Homo sapiens: one gene and its partners. The protein of the gene in region 1 purifies or fractionates together with the protein of each later gene. This does not show direct contact. Each region holds a gene or a part of one and is shown in the gene's direction. Other genes may lie near its edges. The genes, in order: IDUA, SLMAP and PRKAR2B.

Region 1 (3,532 bases):
ACGGTTCCAGCCTGGAGCATGGAGCTGTGTGGGCACCCTGCTTCCTGACGCTGACCGTCCTTCTGCAGGGGGTCCACTGGACGGGGCCTGAGCTACAACTTCACCCACCTGGACGGGTACCTGGACCTTCTCAGGGAGAACCAGCTCCTCCCAGGTGAGCTGTGGGCTCTGCCCTCCCAGCCCGCCTGCACCCCCTTGCCCTGCCCACCCTCTCCCTCACCCAGCCCCTCTGAGTCCTTGGATGTCCATTCAGGGCTGGCCTTGGTGCCGGAGCACAGGCCTGGCAGAGCATGGGTGTGGTGTGTGGTGGGCGGTGGGGCAGCCCTCCTGTGTTCCAGGGTTTGAGCTGATGGGCAGCGCCTCGGGCCACTTCACTGACTTTGAGGACAAGCAGCAGGTGTTTGAGTGGAAGGACTTGGTCTCCAGCCTGGCCAGGAGATACATCGGTGGGCGAGCGCAGGCCCTGGGGCCCTGGCCGGGGCGGGGGTACTCCTGGGCAGGTTGCACCCCTATCACGCAGGCTGCTGCCTGGTCAGGAGATACATTGGTGGGCAGGCGCAGGCCCTTGTGGGGGGATGGGGGTGACAAGGGATAGGTTGGTGGTCGGCGCAGGCCCTGGGGCCCCAGGCTGGGGGGTACTCCTGGGCTTGGTGGGTGGGCGAAGGCCCTGGGCCCCTGGGGTGGGGGGTACTCCTGGGCAGGCTGCACCCCTATCACCCAGGCCGCACCCCTATCACCCAGGCCGCCGCCCAGGTCTTGGACCCCCTTGAGCCAGCGCTTCCTGATGTGGGGCGGGAGGCTGGCCTGCATGGAGATGGGGTTCATCTTGAGTCAGACGCCCTTCATCACCTTGCACCCTCCCTCCGTGGGAGTCACTGAGGCGAGATTCACCTGTGCTGGGGGGACAGCAAGGCTCCTCTGCAGGTAGGTACGGACTGGCGCATGTTTCCAAGTGGAACTTCGAGACGTGGAATGAGCCAGACCACCACGACTTTGACAACGTCTCCATGACCATGCAAGGTGTGCACCGCTTCCTGGGGTCCTGCCCGGCTGAAAGGGGGCAGAGGAAGGCAGGAGCAGAGGCTAAGCCGCTCATCCCCAGGGCAGGTGTAGACGCAGTGCTCCCCCGGCCCAGGCTTCCTGAACTACTACGATGCCTGCTCGGAGGGTCTGCGCGCCGCCAGCCCCGCCCTGCGGCTGGGAGGCCCCGGCGACTCCTTCCACACCCCACCGCGATCCCCGCTGAGCTGGGGCCTCCTGCGCCACTGCCACGACGGTACCAACTTCTTCACTGGGGAGGCGGGCGTGCGGCTGGACTACATCTCCCTCCACAGGAAGGTGCGCCCTGCCCCTCCGTCCGCCCCGGTGTTCTGCGCCCTCAGCCGCTGTGCCCCGGGCCGCGCTGACCCTGGTGGTGCTGAGGCGGCCCCGCCCGCAGGGTGCGCGCAGCTCCATCTCCATCCTGGAGCAGGAGAAGGTCGTCGCGCAGCAGATCCGGCAGCTCTTCCCCAAGTTCGCGGACACCCCCATTTACAACGACGAGGCGGACCCGCTGGTGGGCTGGTCCCTGCCACAGCCGTGGAGGGCGGACGTGACCTACGCGGCCATGGTGGTGAAGGTGGGCCGGCCCAACGCCCTGCGCGCCCCCCGGCCACCTTCCTCCCGAGACGGGACAGGCGAGCGGTGGCCGCGCCACCCGGTCCCAGCTGCCCTGGACACCCGCAGGTCATCGCGCAGCATCAGAACCTGCTACTGGCCAACACCACCTCCGCCTTCCCCTACGCGCTCCTGAGCAACGACAATGCCTTCCTGAGCTACCACCCGCACCCCTTCGCGCAGCGCACGCTCACCGCGCGCTTCCAGGTCAACAACACCCGCCCGCCGCACGTGCAGCTGTTGCGCAAGCCGGTGCTCACGGCCATGGGGCTGCTGGCGCTGCTGGGTGAGCCGGGGCCGCTGGGGTGGGCCGGCCAGGGCCCTCCAGGCTGGGGAGCGGCTCCTGCGAAGGCCCCGCTGCGGGGAGCGCACTTCCTCCAGCCGCGCGCTTCCCGGGGTCGGCCTCCGCGTGGCGGGGCCTGGGGACTCCTTCACCAAGGGGAGGGGGAGCGAGTGGTGGGAGGCCCGGCCCTGGGTCGGGGGGCGGCTGGGCAACGACCCCACGCGGCGACGGCCCCCCCCCGCCCCGCAGATGAGGAGCAGCTCTGGGCCGAAGTGTCGCAGGCCGGGACCGTCCTGGACAGCAACCACACGGTGGGCGTCCTGGCCAGCGCCCACCGCCCCCAGGGCCCGGCCGACGCCTGGCGCGCCGCGGTGCTGATCTACGCGAGCGACGACACCCGCGCCCACCCCAACCGCAGCGTCGCGGTGACCCTGCGGCTGCGCGGGGTGCCCCCCGGCCCGGGTAAGCCGGGGTTCCAGGGAGGTCTCTGGCCCCGCTGGGGCTCTGGAGGGGGCGGCCCGGGGAGCCGAGGCCTGAGTGTCAGGCCCCGCAGGCCTGGTCTACGTCACGCGCTACCTGGACAACGGGCTCTGCAGCCCCGACGGCGAGTGGCGGCGCCTGGGCCGGCCCGTCTTCCCCACGGCAGAGCAGTTCCGGCGCATGCGCGCGGCTGAGGTAGGTGGGCCGCGGAGGGGCGAGGGGCCGGGCCGGGCCGGGGTCCCGGGGGGGTGGGGTCCGGGGCGGGGGCTCCGAGGCGGTGTGGGTGGGAGGTGGAGCGGTGGGCCGGGGGCGTTCGCCCTGAGGTCGGGCCGAGCGTCCCCAGCTCCCCTGGAGAACCCTGAGGACCGGCCACTGCGCCCAGGACCCGGTGGCCGCGGCGCCCCGCCCCTTACCCGCCGGCGGCCGCCTGACCCTGCGCCCCGCGCTGCGGCTGCCGTCGCTTTTGCTGGTGCACGTGTGTGCGCGCCCCGAGAAGCCGCCCGGGCAGGCAAGTGGCAGTCCCCTAACCCGCGCCGCGGCCCGGACTCCCCTTCCCCGACGCCATCACAGCCCTTCCCTCCCCCAGGTCACGCGGCTCCGCGCCCTGCCCCTGACCCAAGGGCAGCTGGTTCTGGTCTGGTCGGATGAACACGTGGGCTCCAAGTGCGTGAGTGGGGCCGCCCCTCCCTCTGCCTGGTCCTAGGCAGGTCCCTGGGTCCCGACCCCTTCACCCATGCGGTCACTCGGGCCACTTGCCGTGGCCCATCGGCTCCCTCCCTCGCCGCCCTGCGTCCCTGCCCTTCACCCCACACACTGTGGGCCACGCGCCAGGCCCTGCCAGTGGGGTGTGGGTTCTCCTAGGGGACATGAGATGGACATTCGGGCTCCAGCCCTCTCCTGCCTGGGCAGGAAGAGTGCCCAGGGGCTGGGGAGGTGCCGCCGAGGGGCTTGAGGGAATGAGGCTGTGGGTCCACGCGGCCGTGCCCTGCCTGCTCCCACCTTTGAGGACTGTCTTGACCCCAGCCTTGTTCTTGGCCTGACCTCCCCAGGTGCCTGTGGACATACGAGATCCAGTTCTCTCAGGACGGTAAGGCGTACACCCCGGTCAGCAGG
Region 2 (3,711 bases), on another chromosome or scaffold:
TTTCCTATCTGCAGGGAATATGTTCCATGACCCCCAGTAGATGCCTGAAATCACAGATAGTACCAAACCCTATATCTACTATGTTTTTTCCTATATATACACATACCTATGATAAAGTTTGACTTATAAATTAAGCATAGTAAGAAATTAACAATAATAATAAAATAGAACAATTACAACAGTATACTGTTATGTGAATAAAAGTTATGTGAATGTCAACATTCTGTCTGTCTCTCTCAAAATATCTTGTACTGCACTATAACTGAAACTGTGGAAAGGGAAACCAGAGATAAGCGGGGACTGCTGTATGTTTTACAAAGTACTATCAAGTTTCACTACTTTAAAATACATCAAGTGGGATGTAATATGAAAATATTTTAGAATATGCTGAAAATTGATCACTCCTCAAAAGAATCATGATGAGCTTATTAGAATCTGTTTTGTGATTTGTAATACTAGGAGGCCTTACATCGGGAACAAATGTTGGAACAGAAGTTAGCCACGCTTCAGCGGCTACTAGCCATCACCCAAGAGGCTTCAGATACCAGTTGGCAGGTATTCCAGTTGTTTTATATTTAAGAAACATTTAAACATAGTTTAATATTCCATACATGTTAAATAAACTAAAATGTAGCAAACAAAGACAAAGTTATTTCCTAACTAATGAACAAGTTGTTGAAGATTTAGCATTTTACAGTGGATGCTGGTCAGTTTTACGCTTTTATATCTTTTGTTGTCAGTAGCAACCTTTTTTTATATACATGTGACTTTATAATTACTCGGGTTTTACTTACATTTAATTTTTCTTCAATAGGCTTTAATAGATGAAGATAGACTCTTATCACGGTTAGAAGTTATGGGAAACCAATTACAGGCATGCTCCAAAGTAGGTATTAACCTCAAATGTGTAAAATGAAATGCATAGTTTTTTATGTAACATCATTTCTTTGACTATCATTTTGAGTATATGCTAAAAACTTCATACATTTCCACAATTCTTTTAAATCTTTTGTGCTGAGAAACGTCAGACATCCATGTAAATAAAAATAATTACATAATGAATACCCATGTACAAGTCTGTCTTTTTTCTATTGCAGTTAATATTTCTTGAAAAAACTGGGTCATTTGTCCTCTAGAATTTCCCTCAGTCTGCATTGTTATTTAAACATTTTTTAGCTCCCCCTCCCACTCCATAAAGTAGTAGTTCCATCTAGAGATTTGATGTGATTTAGGTTCAGTTTTTCTTTTTGTCAACAACACTTTATGGATGGTATTGTGTTCTTCCACCAAGGGACAACATAATGTCTAGTTGTCTTTCTTTTTGAGATTTTTATCAATCATTGATGATCCCAGGCTAGATCCATTATTTCATTACGGTTACAAATAAGGCTGGGCGCAGTGGCTCACACCTATAATCCCAGCACTTTGGGAGGATGAGGCGGGCGAATCACCTGAGCTCGAGAGTTCAAGACCAGTCCAACCGACATGGAGAAATCCCATCACTACTAAAAATACAAAATTAGCCGGGCATGGTGGCACATGCCTGTAATCCCAGCTACTCAGAAGGCTGAGACAGGAGAATCCCTTGAACCCAGGAGGCAGAGGTTGCAGTGAGCCAAGATCGTGCCATTGCAATGTAGCCTGGGCAACAAGAGTGAAACTCTGTCTCAACAACAACAACAACAACAAAAAAGTTACAAAAATAATGATGTAATTCTGTTATTCCTTCACTTATTTAGCTGGGTTACTTCTATAAAGAGAAGTTTCCTTCCATACACAGTGGCTCATGCCTGTAATCCTAGCACTTTGGGAGGCCAAGGCAGGCGGATTGCTTGAGGTCAGGAGTTCAAAACCAGCGTGGCCAACATGGCGAAACCCCGTCTCTACTAAAAGTACAAAAATTAGCTGGACATGGTGGCATGTACCTGTAATCCAAGCTACTCAAGAGGCTGAGACAGAATTGCTTAAACCCGGTGGGGGTGGAGGTTGCAGTGAGCCAAGATCGCACCTCTGAACTCCAGCCTGGGCGACAGAGCGAGACTGTCTCAAAAAAAAAAAAAAAAAAAGCGGGGGCAGTTTGAGACCAGTATGGGCAACATGGCAAAACCCAGTATCTACCAAAAATTAAAGATTTGCTTAGCATAGTGGTACATAACCTGTAGTCCTAGCTACTCGGGAGGCTTAGGTGGAAGGATCGCTTGAGCCCAGGAGTTTGTGATTACAGTGAGTTATGATCGCAGAACTGCGCTCCAGCCTTGGTGACAAAGAGAGACCCTGTCTCTAAAAAAACGAAAAAAGGAAAAACAATGGCCATTGTTTTTTGTAACTTTGGCATCAAAAACCAAATACCACATGTTCTCATTTATAAGTGGAAGCTAAGCTATAGGTATGTAAAGGCATAAAGAGTGCTATAATGGACATTGGAGACTCAGAAGTTGGGAAAGTGAGAGGGGAGTGAGGGATGAAAAACTCCCTATTGAATACAATATACACTACTCAGGTAATGAGTGCACTAAAACCCCAGACATCACCACTACATAATTCATCCATGTAACCAAAAACCACTTGTATCTCTAAAGGTATTGGAATAAAAAAATTTAAATAACCCTGAGGTATGTTTTCTACGGGGAAAGCAAGATAAGTGATTTTCTCCCCTTATTTATTAGATTTCAGAATAATGAATTGGTGGTTTTTCATCTACCAAAGACTGGCCATGAAGTGTTTTCTCACTCCACTTAGATTTAAACATATTTGATGTATTTAAATCTGGTGCAGTTGTTTTTCTTGTTTTAGAGACAGGGTCTTGCTATGTTGCCCAGGCTGGTCTTGAACTCCTGGGCTCACGCAATCCTCCCATCTCGGCCTCCCAAAGTGCCACGGCCAGCCTATTTTTCTTATTGATGCTCAAATTATCCCATCTTTGGTCTGTGTAAATGTCTTCAGAGTGATAGCTTCATGCTGTCATTTCAGACAAGATGTTTCAGGCTCATTTTGTACTTTTCCTGCCCCAGACATGAAGTCTGCTTTTCCCCCATGGTACTCTTATTCCTTTTGTTTTAACCATTGTTTCAGAATGCTTGGTGCCTTTGAAGGTAATTGATTATTTTTGCCTACAAATGTGAATATGGTGGCTTGCAGAAAATATGACAAATATAAAAGTAACTAATTTTGTATATTTTAGGGAAATTCTCAATTGCCTATAACTTTTTTTTTCTATAGGAAGTGGAAATTAGTAAGTTTGTGAAGGCATAATTTACTTATGCAACTTGTAAATACATCTTTAGTTAATACAGGGCCAGAATCATTTATGTTTGGAGGTACCTTAATATATAATTTAAAGTATATCATAATGTGTTAATTTTTTTCAAACAATAAATGCTTTTAAAAAATAACTTGTCTATAATTATAAATATCTTTTATTGTAGAATCAAACAGAAGATAGTTTACGAAAGGAACTTATAGCATTACAAGAGGATAAACATAACTATGAGACAACAGCCAAAGAGTCCCTGAGGCGGGTTCTTCAGGAGAAAATTGAAGTGGTTAGAAAACTTTCAGAAGTTGAGGTATTTCAATCAAAAAAAAAATACTAAATAGTATTATGAGTGTTCAAAAAAATCTCAAGCATTCCAGGATACTTTAAACTTGGGTATTATTATATAGTTAGGAAATACTTTCTGTCTGTCAGGTGGGAAGGAACAGTTACGCTGC
Region 3 (3,711 bases), on another chromosome or scaffold:
GTCAGAGATGGCCTCATAGATAGTATGTATGATCAATTTTGTTAATAGATGGGGCAGGTGAGAGACAGAGAAGTTCCTTATCCAAATTTGGTAGGTTTTGGCCTTATAAATTTGAGTTTGTTCATACAACTGTTGCCAACATTTTGTGCGCTATTTATATTAACTTACATCATATGAATTTTTTCTGTCTTCCATCAAGTTGATTGATAAGGTTTAAAAGGATGGGCTAAAGAAAAGTACTTTTGTCTTCAGAATTTCCAGGTTTTTTTGTTCTTTGATTCTTTTTCAATGAAGTGAAATCTAATATTAGACTATATTTTCCTATCACTTGCTTAAGAAGAGACAATGGAAAAGAAACAAGAATGCAGTGATTTTTCTGAATTGAATGAATTGTTACTGTGTTCTTGATCCTGTTCTTGTCCTTCCTGTCTTATCTATATCATCTAGTTGTGGTTGGGACAGTCACAAAATCCTACTCTAAAAACCTCACTATGATGCTTATCATTATTTTATGAGAGCGAATTTTGTGCTTCACAAATTCAAAATGACTCAGACGGTTTCATTATGTAATTTTATGGAAAGAATTTGAGCTAAAATTTTCAGGTCATGGCTTACATGACAACAAAACAATCAAATAAGAAAATCAGAACTATAAACAGTTGGTGTAACATTTATAAATGTTTCAGCAATAGGCTCTGCCATGTGTAGCTTAATATGTTTGGAAACTAAAAAAAAAAGTCTTTCCAGTTGCTGCTGTTTAAAAATGTTTCTTAATTAAAAAAAAGACAAAAGGTCAAAATGTAAACACATGTTCCACATAAAAGTGAAGCCAAGAAGATATACTGTATACAGTTATTCCTGTATCTGTTTGACTAAGGATGACATTGTTTAATTTACATTAGCTGTTCCAAGACAAAATAGTCCATGGGAGTGATGTTGAGGGGAATTTGGGGGGTAAAAAGAGAAGGAAAAAAGCCGTTTGTTCCATTTGTTCTAATATATTTCAGTTACACCCAAAGAGCATCTTTTTCAAAGGTCATGTTGAATTAAAACATGATTCGGCTGTTTCGTTCTCATTATTATAGAAAACTAATGTCTTTTAAATGGTGTCCTTTTAGGCCGGGCACGGTGGCTCATGTCTATAATTCCCAGCACTCTGGGAGGCCGATGCGGGCGGATCACCTGAGGTCAGGAATAGGACACCAGCCTGGCCAACATGGTGAAACCCCATCTCTACTAAAAATACAAAAATTAGCTGGGCGTGGTGGCGGGCGCCTTAATCCCAGCTGCTTGGGAGGCTGAAGCAGGAGAATCGCTTGAACCCTGGAGACGGAGGTTGCAGTGAGCCGAGATTGCGCCACTGCACTCCAGCTTGGGCAACAGAGGTATACTCTGTCTCAAAAAAATAAATAAATGGTGTCCTTTTTATTTAATACTAGTTATTATTAACATTTTTGACTACTGATGTATCAGATGTGGAACAGTGCTTTACACATTGTCATCTGAACAGATGCTTTACACATATGTGATTTAGTCTTCCCCAGAGTAATTGGTGGAATCAAGGTTTGAACCTGGTAATCTGACTTCAGGGTCTTCCTCTTCAACCACGGTTTATACACTTCATTTCAGTAATTCTTTTAGCAGTAACGTGGTTGAAAATAAGCACATATCAAAAAATAAGCTACCTACTTTTCCCTCTAAAAGTTTGCAGGCTAGCCCTGCATTGATCTCTCCCTTTTACAATTTGCATTCTCTGTCTATTCAACCCAAATTAGCATTTCATGTACCTTAGAAACTCAGTACATTTGTTTATTTTATTTTATTTTGTTTTTGACAGAGTCTTGCTCTGTTGCCCAGGCTGGAGTGCAGTGGTGCCATCTTGGCTCACTGCAGCCTCTGCCTCTGGGTTCAAGTGATTCTCCTGCCTCAGCTTCCTGAGTAGCTGGGATTACAGGTGTGTGCCACCATGTCTGCCTAATTTTTGTATTTTTGGTAGAGACAAGGTTTTTCCATGTTGGCAAGGCTGGTCTGGAACTCCTGGCCTCAAGTGATCCCACCTGCCTCAGCCTCCCAAAATACTGGGATTATAGGCAAGAGCCACCACACCCAGCCTACATTTATTTATTTTAGAAATAATCACCTCATGTACTGAGCTGCTTAATTCTCTAAATTTATTTTATTATATACCTTTATTAGCAAAATATATTTGAGTGTACACCCCAATATATGTTGATAAATTTTATACATGTGACAATATATTGACTTATATGTATGATAAAGCTTCCTACAATATAAATTTTGAAAGGAGAAAGTAAAAAGCAATTCTAAGCAAGTTGTAATTTTCTCCTACATCCCAACATATAGCCTTATACACTGTTTTGGCATACATGAACCCCGTTTTGGAGACTACAGCTGTAAACAATACCACTTAAATTGATACTCTAGTAATATATAAAGTAGCCATGATCAATTTTGGTTCCCTGATTCAAGCTTCTAGATTATAAAGAGTGTGTGTGTGTGTGTGTGTGTGTGTGTGTGTGTGTGTGTGTGTCTTTTTTAAAAGACAGTCACTCGGTAAGTTAATTGACTCAACAGAAGTTGGCAGAATACAGAGGAAAATTCTATCTTATAAAAAGGAAGTAAAACTACGTTACCTGAAGGGGAAAATCCAGGCTTTTTCTTTTAAAACCTGTTTTCCTGTATATACCTTGAATTCCAATTGTATAGTGGTAATGTTTTTGGTGCAACATTTGTGGATGGGACAAAGAGAATCGTATTATAGTTTTCTGGTTAGGAATCAGTAAATTATGGAAATACCAGTCAGAATTAGAAGAAAGTCTAAAGTTTAGAATAGTTGAAAAGAAATGCAATTTCATAGAGTATTTCAGGTTATTTTGTTAGGAGAGAGATCGTTCACTATTTGCTTTCTTGTAACTTTTGAAAAATGTTTAGCATGTGCTTGGATTACCTATTAAATAAGTGTAAAAATACATGAAAGAAAGGCAATTCTTTTGTAAATATGCATTAAGTAGTAAATAAAACACAGTAGGCCGTGTGTGGTGGCTCACAGCCTGTAATCCCAGCACTTTGGGAGGCCGAGGCGGGCGAATCATGAGGTCAGGAAATCGAGACCATCCTGACTAACTTGGTGAAACCCCGTCTCTACTAAAAATACACACAAAAAAATTAGCCTGGCGTGGTGGCAGTTGCCTGTAGTCCCAGCTACTCGGGAGGCTGAGGCAGGAGAATGGCGTGAACCCGAGAGGCAGAGCTTGCAGTGAGCTGAGATCGCAGCACTGCTTGACAGAGTGAGACTCCATCTCAAAACAAAACAAAACAACAAAACAAACAAAAACCACGGTATATAGCGGCACATGACATGATTCTAAATTGATATAGCCAAATATTCTTGTCTTAAGTCATTCTCTTGGTCCTGAATTCTCACTCCCCTCTCCCTGTCTTTCTGCTAAATCTCACTCTTTTCCCAAAGGTTTAGTTTATATTTTACCCTACCAAATATTTTTGCAAGTTTCCCTCCTTGACGTTAATACTATCAATATGGTAGGATGAATATGGCCTCCATCAGTCAACTTTGCAGATGTCAAGGGTCCTCAGTCTAGGTAGGCAAGAATGTGCAGGAATATACCCTCTCTTTCTAAGTCTTTCCTGTATGTGTTGTGCTTTGCTCACAGTAGGTGTGCAAATGTTTTT

Evidence for each region.
Region 2: the proteins of IDUA (region 1) and SLMAP fractionate together in Homo sapiens (co-fractionation; one large-scale study listed by BioGRID). This does not show direct contact.
Region 3: the proteins of IDUA (region 1) and PRKAR2B fractionate together in Homo sapiens (co-fractionation; one large-scale study listed by BioGRID). This does not show direct contact.

The regions. Positions count from the first base shown.
Region 1 is NC_000004.12:1,000,544-1,004,075, forward strand, and holds part of IDUA (alpha-L-iduronidase isoform a precursor), read left to right. Parts: intron 1-68; coding exon 69-154; intron 155-338; coding exon 339-446; intron 447-924; coding exon 925-1,020; intron 1,021-1,135; coding exon 1,136-1,338; intron 1,339-1,438; coding exon 1,439-1,618; intron 1,619-1,725; coding exon 1,726-1,942; intron 1,943-2,188; coding exon 2,189-2,401; intron 2,402-2,492; coding exon 2,493-2,614; coding exon of another isoform or gene 2,615-2,801; coding exon 2,802-2,927; intron 2,928-3,005; coding exon 3,006-3,082; exon of another isoform or gene 3,083-3,086; intron 3,087-3,468; coding exon 3,469-3,532.
Region 2 is NC_000003.12:57,857,274-57,860,984, forward strand, and holds part of SLMAP (sarcolemmal membrane-associated protein), read left to right. Parts: intron 1-459; coding exon 460-555; intron 556-814; coding exon 815-886; intron 887-3,425; coding exon 3,426-3,566; intron 3,567-3,711. UniProt on the Homo sapiens protein: Associates with the striatin-interacting phosphatase and kinase (STRIPAK) core complex, forming the extended (SIKE1:SLMAP)STRIPAK complex.
Region 3 is NC_000007.14:107,051,019-107,054,729, forward strand, and holds part of PRKAR2B (cAMP-dependent protein kinase type II-beta regulatory subunit), read left to right. Parts: intron 1-3,711. UniProt on the Homo sapiens protein: Regulatory subunit of the cAMP-dependent protein kinases involved in cAMP signaling in cells. Type II regulatory chains mediate membrane association by binding to anchoring proteins, including the MAP2 kinase.